Linked DNA regions of Homo sapiens: all the other regions are linked to region 2. Evidence: fine-mapped expression QTL. A gene starts in region 2. Each other region holds a variant in brackets. All regions are shown on one strand. Distances are from middle to middle. Region 1 overlaps OXA1L (OXA1L mitochondrial inner membrane insertase). Region 2 holds the start of SLC7A7 (solute carrier family 7 member 7). Region 3 overlaps OXA1L-DT (OXA1L divergent transcript).

The links. PIP is the estimated chance that this variant, and not a neighbour inherited with it, causes the effect.
Region 1: its variant is the best candidate, but not a certain one, in a credible set for the expression of SLC7A7 in whole blood (TOPMed, PIP 0.66).
Region 3: its variant is the best candidate, but not a certain one, in a credible set for the expression of SLC7A7 in whole blood (INTERVAL, PIP 0.52).

Annotation. Positions count from the first base shown.
Region 1 is chr14:22,771,654-22,775,687 of GRCh38, forward strand. OXA1L (OXA1L mitochondrial inner membrane insertase) reads left to right here. Exons shown (of 10, transcript NM_005015.5): 10 at 1-1,389. It overlaps SLC7A7 (solute carrier family 7 member 7), which reads right to left. Exons shown (of 10, transcript NM_003982.4): 7 at 3,791-3,887; 8 at 2,701-2,850; 9 at 2,280-2,463; 10 at 1,569-2,063. The coding sequence ends at 1,957. Among named protein-coding and RNA genes, the nearest start is that of OXA1L, 7.0 kb to the left of the region's middle. The variant T/C (reference allele first, on the strand shown) is at 1,823.
Region 2 is chr14:22,813,238-22,817,458 of GRCh38, forward strand. SLC7A7 (solute carrier family 7 member 7) reads right to left here and starts at 2,198. Exons shown (of 10, transcript NM_003982.4): 1 at 2,083-2,198; 2 at 1-203. The coding sequence starts at 161. RefSeq lists silencers at 46-105, 126-185 and enhancers at 1,493-1,999, 2,188-2,287.
Region 3 is chr14:22,736,943-22,741,163 of GRCh38, forward strand. All of the region lies in intron 1 of OXA1L-DT (OXA1L divergent transcript), which reads right to left. Among named protein-coding and RNA genes, the nearest start is that of OXA1L-DT, 28 kb to the right of the region's middle. RefSeq lists an enhancer at 316-485. The variant C/T (reference allele first, on the strand shown) is at 1,813.

The DNA of each region.
Region 1 (4,034 bases), 42 kb before region 2:
AACTGTGGCACACAGAGATGTTCATTTTAAAAACGGATTTCATGAAACACTCTTGTACTTATGTTTATAAGAGAGCACTGGGTAGCCAAGTGATCTTCCCATTCACAGAGTTAGTAAACCTCTGTACTACATGCTGCTTCCTGATACTTATTGAACAGGGAAATCAGTGTGCACTTCAGAAAACTGAAGAATACCCAGCATTTTGGGAGGCCGAGGTGGGTGGATCACCTGAGATCAGGAGTTTGAGACCAGCCTGGCCAACATGGGGAAACGCCATCTCTGCTGTTTTACAAAAATAGCCACACGTGGTGGTGCACACCTGTAGTCCCAGCTACTCGGGAGGCTGAGGCAGGAGAATTGCTTGAATCCGAGAGGCGGAGGTTGCAGTGAGCCAAGATCGCACCACCGCACTCCAGCCTGGGCAATAGAGGGAGACTGTCTCAAAAAAAAAAGAAAACTGAAGAATAGAGTGAGTCATGATTGCTTTTGCTGGCCCATGGCCTTGGAAAATATAATGTTTTAACCTGGCATTAAGGGTTTAAACTTCCACCCAGGCGCAGTGGCTCACGCCAGTAATCCCAGCACTTTTGGGAGGCCAAGGCGGGCGGATCACGAAGTCAGCAGATCGAGACCATCCTGGCCAACATGGTGAAACCCCGTCTCTACTAAAAAAAAAAAAAAAAAAATTAGCCGGGCATGGCGGCGGGTGCCTGTATTCCCAGCTACTTGGGAGGCTGAGGCAGGAGAATGGCGTGAACCCAGGAGGCAGAGCTTGCAGTGAGCCGAGATTGCGCCACTGCACTCCAGCCTGGGCAAGAGAGTGAGACTCCTTCTCAAAAAAAAAAAAAAAAAAAAAAAAAAAAAAACAGTTTAAACTTCCAACCCATGCATGTGTTGTTCTATGCACATTTGGATTGCAGTCTAGAGGTGTGGCTGATAAGTTGAATGTTGAGATTGTATCTAAATATAGTAACCGCACTTCTTGATCCCAAGATTACTTTAAAAATTTCAAGAAGTAGATGTGTGCAAATTCTTAGTGATAATTAAGAATGAAAGTTCCAGGCTGGGCAAAGTGGCTCACACCTATAATCTCAGCACTTTGGGAGGCTGAGGTGGGTAGATCACTTGAGTCCAGGAATTTGAGACCAGCCTGGGCAACATGGCGAGACCTTGTCTCTGCTAAAAAGTTAGCTGAGCATGGTGGTGCTTGTCCATAGTCCCAGCTACCTGGGAGGCTGAGGTGGGAGGATAGCTTAAGCCCAGGAGGTTGAGGCTGCAGTGATCCAAGATCATGCTGCTATACTCCAGCCTTGGCTACAGAGCAAGATCCTGTCTCAAAAAGGAAGTTCATGTCATTTTTATGTAACAATCCAACATTTGACTAGAGCAGTTTAAGTGTTCTGTTGTCTGCCTTTGTGTAGAGCCTGGTTTATCAGCCTTCAGCAGCTAGCTTGAGAGAGAAAAGATGGATATACTTTCAAGCATAAGATTGATTTTAGTCTTTGTGTTTCTAGGCTAATGGGAGCTGTCCTAGAGATAGATACTATATAAAATGAAGCCACTCAGACTTTAGGAACATAAACTTTTATTGTCATCCAGCACCTGTGATAGTTTCATGTCTCTCTAAAGGAGACAGGAAATTGGAGCATTGTGGGCCCTTTTAAAAGAAAAGAGGAGTAGGTAGGCACACCCAGGTGCTTCTAAAACAACCAAGCCCAAACCTGACATGCTCCTCCCCACAGTCACCTTCATTGTCCCCTTTAAAAGTCTGGAACAGTATGTAGCAAAACAAATAAATTACTTTTCATTTCAAAAAGTAAGT[T/C]CAAAGGTTGAAGCTGCCTAGGCCAGGCTTCTGGACAGGTGCCTCCAAAGAAGTGAGCTTTCCTTTTCAACTTCCTTAGCTCTAGCCAGTAGACCAGAAACCCCTGCTTTCCACATCAGGATTCCAGATGGTGTTTAGTTAGATTTGGGATCCCGTTGCTTGGGCATCTCTCCTCCATCTTCCAAATCCATTTCTGCAGCAACTGACATACACAGGACCTGGAGGTACCTTGTGGCAGACCCTACAAAGAGAACTTTGAGTTGGAATTGAGAAGAGGTCAGCTGGGCTGAGTTCAAGTGTCACTGAATGGAACTCAGTGTGAGGGGAGTGATTCCACTAAGCCGAAGGGTTCATAAGAAGGGGCTAAGGCAAAGATGTCTTTGGAGGCTGGATTTACAGAAAAAGGCAAAAACCAAGCTCTGCAATAGCTGAGCGGACTTAAGGATGCACGGCTTACCCACGATCCTTCGGAGGTAAAGCGGTCGCTTATGTTCTGGCACTCTGATGATGAGGAAGTAAAAGGGCAGGCCTGAGAGGGCAATGGCAATGCCGATGAGGGAGTTGATAGTATCACTGTAAAGTGGAACAGCCACCAGGAAGATGGTGCAGAGGCAGAAGACAATCGGGAAGAAAACGCTGAGCTAAGGGCACAGGAAACATAACTGGAGTGGACAACTCAGGATTCTTAACAGCTAAAATAACCCCACCTCCCATAAGGATTAGCGCACTGAGCCTTCTTTCCATACCTTTAATTTCAACACATTACTAACGACCAAGTCCCAGGCAAAGGTTTCTAAATAAAGTGCTTTGTCATAGTCCCTTGTAGCAACAACTCCAGCTGTTTCAGGTGGAGCAGAGGTAGGATGGAGTTGCCTTACCTTGAGGGGACGAGGTCGATCAGGCTCCTTCCAGCGCAGATAAAGCTGACCCACAATAGAAAGCCCCACAAAGAACCAGTAGCTGAAGCTGTAGTAGTTAATGAGCTGGAAGATGTCTTCCACGCACAAGTAGATCAATGCCATGATACCCTGTAAGCGTGAGCCTAAGTCAGCTCTTCTCAGGGCCTTTGTTAATCCAAAGGCTTTTCACTCCCTTTATACCCCAGAAATCCATCCCCTGTCAATCCTCAAAGTCTCCTGGTCCTCTTCTGGTTTTAATCCCTTTAACACCCTAGTTTCAGTACCTTATCCCCTCTCTTATAAGTCAGTAGTCTCAACTGGCTTTTCAACCCATTCTTCAAGTTAACCCTGTATAAAGCAAGCTCGAAACAATCCCTCAAAAGTCTTGCATAGGACCCTTTCCATAATGGCTCCAACCTACAATAACCCGCTCTTATCTCCTCCTACATGTTGAGTATCCCTGTTCTGAAAATCCAAAATGCTCCAATGAGCATTTCCTTTGAGTGTCAAGTCAGCACTCAAAAAGTTTCAGATTTTTAGAGCATTTCAGATTTTGGATATTCAGATTAGGGATACTCAACCTGTATTAAAACCCATACTGCTTTATCACAGGATTTTCTGATGCTATTTCTCCTACCTAAAGCCCATCTCTACCATTTGCAACCCTAGCCATCAAGATGCACTTTTTTTTTCTGAGAACACTTTGGTGGATTTTAAGACACACACACACACTTCTAGATGTAATTCTTCACCCTCTACTCCCATGGAAGTGATCGTTTCTTCTCTTAAACACCGTATCACTCACTATCTGTCATGGCAATCAATCATTACAGTGTATTCCATGTACTTTTTGCCTTATCTTAGAGCAGAGGTGTACCATTCCTTAGAGCATTTGGATTTCCCCTGTAGCGGTTAGCATAGTGCCTTGCCCGTGGTGAACATTCTGATCCACCAATAGTTTTTCTATTGGAATCTTTCAGAGCTTTCAGGAAGCTAGAACAGTCGCTTCTGCTGTTACTAAAGTTTCCCCCGCAATCTGGCTTTCAGTCTCATCCTTGAGTTCACTTACATTGAAGAGCAGAGAAGGCACTGGTGTGAACCGCTCAACATGGATCATGCAGATGGCATCAGGGAGATGGCCTTCTCTTGAGCCCACAAAGAAAAGCCTATGTTAGGTAAGATAGGAGAAGCTGAGAAAATTGGTGGACACGGTGCAGCCTGGTTCACCTGCCACATGGCCCTCCCTCTCTGCCATCCCTTCCTTCAAAAGTATTTGGATAATATGGACTGGAGCTCAGTATTAAGATTAATGA
Region 2 (4,221 bases):
CCCGAGCCGATCATGTTCCCCACAATCAGGCACACGCCGTTAAGCAGTGAGATCTCCTTCTTCAGCTTCACCTGCTCCGGCCCTGGGCTGGCCCCATCACCCAAAGGGGAGGTTTCCACCTCAGGCTGGGAGGCCACTTCATACTCAGTGCTGTCAACCATGGTGGAGGAGAGGAAACCCTTCACCAGCTTCCTGGCATTGCCCTTTAAGGAAGAAAGATGATGCTATAGATTAGGTGGTTGGCAATTACATAGAACCTCTACCCGCCTCCAACACAGGGTAATACGGGCAGCTCACCAACCAATGCGGAGACCTCCAAATAACCTTTTCTCCAGCTCACTCATCAAAACAACCCCAACTTGAATATTTGTCTATCTATCTATGTATTTATTTATTTATTGACAGAGTCTCGCTCTGTAGCCCAGGCTGGAGTGCAGTGGTGCAATCTCGGCTCGGCTCACTGCAACCTCAGCCTCCCGGGTTCAAGCGCTTCTCTTGCCTCAGCCTCCCAAGTAGCTGGGATTACAGGCACCTGCCACCACGCGTGGCTAATTTTTTTTTTTTTTTTTTGAGATGGAGTTTTGCTCTTGTTGCCCAGGCTGGAGTGCAATGGCGCGATCTCAGCTCACTGCAACCTCCGCCTCCCGGGTTCAAGTGATTCTCCTGCCTCAGCCTCCCAAGTAGCTGGGATTATAGGCATGCACCACCACACCCAGCTAATTTTGTATTTTTAGTAGAGATGGGGTTTCTCCATGTTGGTCAGGATGGTCTCAAACTCCCGACCTCAGGTTATCCGCCCGCCTCGGCCTCCCAAAGTGCTGGGATTACAGGCGTGAGCCACCTTGCCCAGCCTCCAACTTGAATTTTTAAGAGAAGGCACTCATTCGCCAGAGAGAAAGGATCTGTCTCTCATCATTAGGACATTGCTGCCCACCCGACTCACCAAATAGAGAACTAAATCTTGGGCCGGGCGCTGTGGCTCACATCTGTAAACCCAGCACTTTGGGAGGCCAAGGCGGGCAGATCACCTAAAGTCGGGAGTTCGAGACCAGCCTGACCAACATTTAGAAACCCAGTCTCTACTAAAAATACAAAAATTAGCCATGCGTGGTGGCACATGCCTGTAATCCCAGCTGCTTGGGAGGCTGAGGCAGGAGAATCACTTGAGCCCGGGAGGCAGAGGTTGCGGTAAGCTAAGACTGGGCCATTGCACTCCAGCCTGGGCAACAAGAGCAAAACTCTGTCTCAAAAAAAAAACAAAATCAAAAACAAAACACTAAATGTTGGTTCTCTCTGAGCCTGCTATAATACAAGACAGGCATGGGGGCAGTGTGGCGGCTCCCAGAAAATAACTATAATGGCTTGACCCCGAGTTTTCAGCCTTATCCAAAACCCGTCTTCCCTCCAATTTCAGCTTCAGGGATCACCTGTGCTGAGGTACAACATTAGGAACTGACCCTACCAGCAGCTAATCTGTGGGAGCGTCTCATGACACTGCTCTTTTCCCCAAGGACTCTACGTCTGCCAAAACTAAAGGCTTCAGAAACCTGCTGGAAACCCACAACCATCCTCCTGCCCAAAGAGCATCCCTTAACCCTTAGCTGGAGTCTTCAGCCCTGGCAAAGCCCAAGTAGACCCACTTCACCCTGAAAGAAGACAGGCTATTATCTTTTCCTTGCTTTTCCTTTCCCATTCTCTGGTATTCTAAGCCTCCTGCTATCGATCCCTCACATCAGCATCGTTGAATCACCCAAAAAAGTATGAATGAGAGAAGGGCGATCCAATGTACCATAAAACCTAGGGATGATTGGAGGCAGCTGATGGCCACTCCCTACCCCAGAGTTGCTGCTGGAGAGATATCACCCCGAGCCAAGGCAGGGAGACAGCTGCAGCCAGGCAGCACATGCTGGAAAACACCGAACAGGAGACAGCTGAGAGGAAAATGGGAGAGGCTAGTCAAGCAATGGAGAGATGTTAGGGTGAGAGGCACTCGGGAGAAGAAGCGATTAGACACTGCACAGCAGCAAAGAGGAGGGTTAGCAAGGTAAGTGGAGATGAGAAGAGGGTGGAACGCACACTCACTCCTTGGTCCTGGATATAAGCAGGTTCTCACGGCAGTGTGAGCAGCAGTCAGGGAGAGAAGTGCCTTCCAGGATCTGTGGTCTGATGCTCCTCCTTCCCAGCCAGCAGTAAAAGGGAAGGCCAGACAAATGCCTATGGATTTAAGCAAGAAGGGTGGAGGAGGTGAGGCAGCCCGCAAAGGAAGGAGTGAGGGAGGGGGAAAGGAGTATTAAGCAACCATCTGGGTCCAAGGTTCACTGGCCCTTCACATCTGCAAAAGGGGCAGCTAGGAGCTCTTGGCTCAGCACTTTCTGTGATAAGAAGGTGCTCTCTCAGGAATCTCCTTTGTCAGCTCTGCTCTGGGACCAGGGGCCCAGAAGAAAGGACAGTCAGCTGAGTGCAGTATCTGTAGCCCTGGGGAAGCTGTCCCAGAGCAAGTTAGCTGAGGACAGGACAGTAGCGGGGAAGGAATACACAGCACTCTCTCTCTCTGTGTCCTCCATGCCCCACCCTAGCCTCTCTTCTCTCTCACCCCAAGCATTTAAGAAAGGGAGGAAGGTTGCACAGTGTGACACAAAGGCTTGTTCCCATGCTGAGATTACAGGAAGTGTAAGAGCAGTCTCTACACCATGTGACTGGGTGTTCTAAGAGAACTCTGCACACTTCCCCATGCAAAGAGAGACTGGGGGGTTGCCTCCAAGCCTGGGCCACTGCCCCAAAGTCTGAGCCTCAGACTACTTCAAAAGAAACACAGTCAAGAGATCAAATATCTGACTGCATCCCCACCAGACCCACGTGCCTTTTCATTCTTGACAAAACATACCAAGATCTCTGGGATAAGCATAAATTCCTATAAACGCCTTCCTCAAATATAAGTTGACTCCACTTTCCTAAAAAATATGAGGAAATCAGGCCAGACGCGGTGGCTCACGCCTGTAATCCCAGCACTTTGGGAGGCTGAGGCAGGCGGATCACAAGGTCAGGAGATCAAGACCATCCTGGCTAACACGGTGAAACCCCGTCTCTACTAAAAACACAAAAAAATAAAAATTAGCCGGGCGTGGTGGCGGGCACCTGTAGTCCCAGCTATTCGGGAGGCTGAGGCAGGAGAATGAGGAGAATGGCATGAACCCGGGAGGCGGAGCTTGCAGTGAACCCACATTAGGCCACTGCACTCCAGCCTGGGCAACACAGCAAGACTCCATCTCAAAAAAAAAAAATTAAAAAAGAATATGAGGAAATCAGATTTCACTGAATTCTGTTGGACAGACAGGCCCAGAACAGGCAGAGGAAGCTGAGCACTTTTTGGAAATCACATAGTTTATGCTATCTTTATTATTTACTTTAAATCTGGTATTCTGAGTCTCTTTTACCAACAGAAATAGACCCTATCCATTCTGAAATCCAACTGTCTGTTTCTTCTCCTATCTGTTCTAACCCTCTTTGGTTATTCTACAACCAGAGAATAGAGATCTAAATATCTCTGGGAGACATCTCTACCATACATCCTCCCATTCTAGCTCTTTAAACTTTTAATTTAATCTAGGAGGAGGATTCTGGTGTGAGCGTTCCCAGAGATCATGCTTCTCCCAAGACAGGCTCACAATGATCTGAAATCCTTCTGGAGGAGACTCTCCTTTTCTCCAAAATGCTCCTGTAATAATAATTGCTATCACTTATTGAGCACTTACTGGGCCAGACACACTGCTAAGGACTTAAGCACATTATCTCATGGAACCTCCAGAGCTCATATACTCTTAATCACACAAGTATACTATCTCTCCATCTCCCCATCCCCCTGGCCTGCCTTAGTCTCTAGGCCTTCCTTTTATTTTTTTTTTTTTTTATTTATTTTCTTTTTTTGAGACAGAGTCTCACTCTGTCCCCCAGGCTGGAGTGCAGTGGCACGATCTTGACTCACTGCAACCTCCACCACCTCCTGGTTCAAGCAATTCTCATGCATCAGCCTCCTGAGTAACTAGGATTACACCTGGCTAATTTTTGTGTTTTTATTTCGGTATTTTTATTTTATTTTATTTTATTTTATTTTATTTATTTTGAGACAGACACTTACTCTGTCGCCCAGGCTGGAGTGCAGTGGTGCAATCTCGGCTCACTGCAACCTCCACCTACTGGGTTCAAGCAATTCTCCTGCCTCAG
Region 3 (4,221 bases), 76 kb before region 2:
GGATTTACTATGTTGGCCAGGCCAGTCTTGAACTCCTGACCTCAGGTGATCCACCCACCTCAGCCTCCCAAAGTGCTGGGATTACAGGCATGAGCCACCGTACCCGGCCCAAAACTTTCCTTTTTCAAACCTATACTATAGTCGGTAGATTCTTCTTACCAACCTGCAAGTCCATCACTGCCCAATGCTGATGCCAGGGCTCTGACACCACACCCAGCAGTTTTCTAGCAGTGGAATCTGTTATACTAACTCTTTGAATGAGTAACTGAAACAGATTCTGAAACTGAAACTGCCTCTGCAAGGATTATGACAGTGGGAGAAATGGCTGTCATGACTGCCTCCATGACTGCTTCTAATCATGCCTCCAGGCCTCCATGACTGCCTCCATGACTGACTCCATCTTGCTTCTAAGCCTCACAGGCTGACTGTCCTCACTCATGCCTGGGTGTGGCCAAACTAACCATGGGAGGAATTCAATTTATAGTTTAACTTGCAGGCAAGAATGATAATAATCCTTACCTAACACTAACCCCCTCCTTCCTTGCTCAGGGACTAAAAATGAATGATAGGCCATGAGATTAGGATTATGGGAGGAGCCTGAATTCTGCTAAGGATGTAAACATAGTTTCTATAACCACTTACTGCTCAGGAGTCATGTTGCCAGAGGTCACAATATTTGTGATTTCCCCAACTGCCCCATAACCATACAATATAGGCCGGACAATATAGGTGGTGGCTCACGCCTGTAATCCCAACACTTTGGGAGGCTGAGGTGGGAGGATCATGAGGTCAAGAGATCGAGACCATCCTGGCCAACATGGTGAAACCCCGTCTCTACTAAAAATACAAAAATTAGCTGGGTGTGATGGTGTGTGCCTATCGTCCCAGCTACTCTGGAGGCTGAGGCAGGGGAATCGCTTGAACCCAAGAGGCAGAGGTTGCAGTGAGCGGAGATCTTGCCACTGCACTCCAGCCTGGCAACAGAGTGAGACTCTGTCTCAAAAGAAAAAAAAAGGCCAGGCGCAGTGGCTCACGCCTGTAATCCCAGCACTTTGGGAGGCCAAGGCAGGCAAATCACCTGAGGTTGGGAGTTCCACACTAGCCTGACCAACATGGAGAAACCCCATCTCTACTAAAAATACAAAATTAGCCGGGTGTGGTGGCACATGCTTGTAATCCCAGCTACTCGGAAGGCTGAGGCAGGGGAATCGCTTGAACCCGGGAGGTGGAGGTTGCAGTGAGCTGAGATCGCATGACTGCACTCCAGCCTGGGCAACAAGAGTGAAACTCCATCTGAAAAAAAAAAAAATTACAATGTAATAGTGATGCTAGGACCTAAGATTGGTCTTTTAAGATGTTTTCCAGACTTTTGTATTCTATCTCATGACTCAACTGATCCTGCAGCCCTGACCCAGAGGTAGATTCAGCACACAAGGATTGTTTTCTGCATTCCTATGATTTTATCCCCAACCAGTCAGCAGCACCCACTCCTTAGCCCCTGCTCACCAAATTATCTACAAAAACCCTAGCCTCTGAGTTCTCAGGGAGGCTGATTTCAGTAATAATTCTGTTTTCCACATGCCTAGCCAAGTTTTAATTAAACTCTTTCTTTACTGCAACGCCATGGTCTCTGTGAATTGGTTTTGTCTGTATAGTAGGCAGGAGAAACCTGTTGGGCAATTACAAAACTTTTTCTGGAGTTTCACGGTAAAAAAAAAAAAAAAAAAAAAAAGGCCCTTTCAAAATCCATTAATGGTAGGAAAAGTAGAGTCTATGTATGTGAGAGATCCTATAAAGAGTTATCAAACTGAA[C/T]TTGGGTTCGCTCACCCAGCACAGTAAAGTCAAACATCCACACCAAGTTTTTTGCAGTGGGAGAAAGGAGGGCATTTATTTGCAGGGCACCCAACAAGGAGAATCAGGCAGCTCACACTTAAGACCCAACCTCCCCAGTGGCTTACAGTTAATGGTTTTTTAAGGCAAGGAAACAGCGGTTATGGGCAAAAATCATAAATTGGGCCAGGTGCTGTGGCTCACACTTGTAATCCCAGCACTTTGGAATGCCGAGGCAGGTAGATCACCTGAGGTCAGGAGTTCAAGACCACCCTGGCCAACGTGAAAAAACCCCATCTCTACTAAAAGTACAAAAATTAGCCAGGTGTGGTGGCAGGCGCCTGTAATCCCCAGCTATTTGGAAGGCTGAGGCAGGAGAATCACTTGAACCAGGGAGGCAGAGGTTGCAGTGAGCCAAGATTGTGCCACTGCACTCCAGCCTGGGTGACAGAGTGAGACTCTGTCTCAAAAAAAAAAATCATAAATCAATACATGGAGGCCATACAGGACATCTCAAATCGGGGCTCACAGGCCACAGGTGAATTCAAAGATTTTTCTGATTTGCAATTGGTTAAGGAGGGAAAACTTTGTAAAAAATTTAGGATCAGCAGAAAAGAATGTTAGCTCTGGTTTATGGGCATGCTCCCTCCACACCCTTCAGGAAGAAATTTATAACAAAGAATGGTGGCCAGCATTCATTCCTCAGTTTCCCCCTTATCTGAGGTCTGCGTGCCAGAGGAGCCATTTGATGGAGGTCTGGGTTTCTGAAAAACAACTCAGGGATATATGTTAAGATGTTATCTTCAGTTTCTAAAGGAAACCAAACATCCTGTGACTTCAACTTCCTTGGCTATTGTTTTAAGCTACCATTCCCTTCTTGCTTATCAAGTTGTTCATTTACTTCTCAAGGCTAGCTAGGTGCCTGGAATTTCCCTTGAAGGAATTCAAGATTTTTCTTTATTTCCATGCTTTGTGGGGAAGGTCATCCCTGGCAGGCCCCCAAGAGGGGTCTTTGCTCCATCTCAGAGTCTATGTGTGACTGGAACTCTCATACATTGCTAGTGGGAGTGCAAAATGATATAATCACTTTAGAAAATACTCTAACCTTCTCTTATAAAGTTTAACATATACTTACCATACAAACCATCAAATCCCTTTTTAGATGTGTACCCAAAGAAAATGAAAATAGAGATCTACTCAAAGACTTGTATGCAGCTTTATTAATGATAGCCAAAAACTAGAAACAGCCCACATGTCCATCAACTAGTGAATAGATAAGCGTATGGTGGAAGACCCATACTATGGAATGCTCCTCAGCCATAAAAAGGAACAAATTAACATATAATCTAGGTAAACTGACACCCATTTTACTTGGGAGGAATATGGCCTTCTAGTGAGAATGAGTAATGAAGGTGTGATATTGAAGAGTTGGCCCAGCTGTCCTCATGCACTGCTGTCCACTCTATCATTCATAGCCTTCTTCAGCCTCAGTTCCTGTTTTTTTAAAATAAGAACAACGTTCATCTCAACACATAAAACTGGCAAAATAGTAATAACTATGTTGTAGAGAATTCAGAAAACTGATGCTCTCCAACAGCTAGTGTGATCCTCAGGAGCGCAGTCTAGGAATGGGAAAAAAAAGCCTTAAAATGTGCAGACCTCCTGACCCAGCCATTTCACTTTTAGGCAATTTCCCTAAGACTATAATCACTTATGATGAAAATATTGGTCCTAGTGACATTGACAAAGTTACTCATTTTATCTGATGTATATTTGTTTCAGAAAAATAATGCCAATATTATTAGTAATAATAAAACTATGACCTACATAAACAAAAAAACTTTGTGTTATCTCACTTAAACCTCAAAACAGCCTGATGTGATACTTACAGATTTCACAGGTGAGGAAAATGTTGTGCCTAATGACACATATCTGGTAAGTATATCCTTAGTCATCAGGATGCAAACCTTGACTGTCTGAGACAATCCTCACTGTTAGCCACTGTCTTACACAGCCAGATATACAAGGCCTGGGCAATTGTACCCACTGTTAGAAATTCAGATAACTATGTTTTAGAGACTGCTAGTAATGACTATATCAAACAAATCAATACATTGAACATTAATTCTTTTTTTTTTTTTTGAGATGGAGTCTCGCTCTGTCGCCCAGGCTAGAGTGCAGTGGTGCGATCTTGGCTCACTGCAAGCTCCGCCTCCCGGGTTCACGCCATTCTCCTGCCTCAGCCTCCCAAGTAGCTGGGACTACAGGTGCCCGCCACCACGCCCGGCTAATTTTTTGTATTTTAGCAGAGACGGGGTTTCACCGTGTTAGCCAGGATAGTCTTGATCTCCTGACCTCGTGATCCGCCCGCCTCAGCCTCCCAAAGTGCTG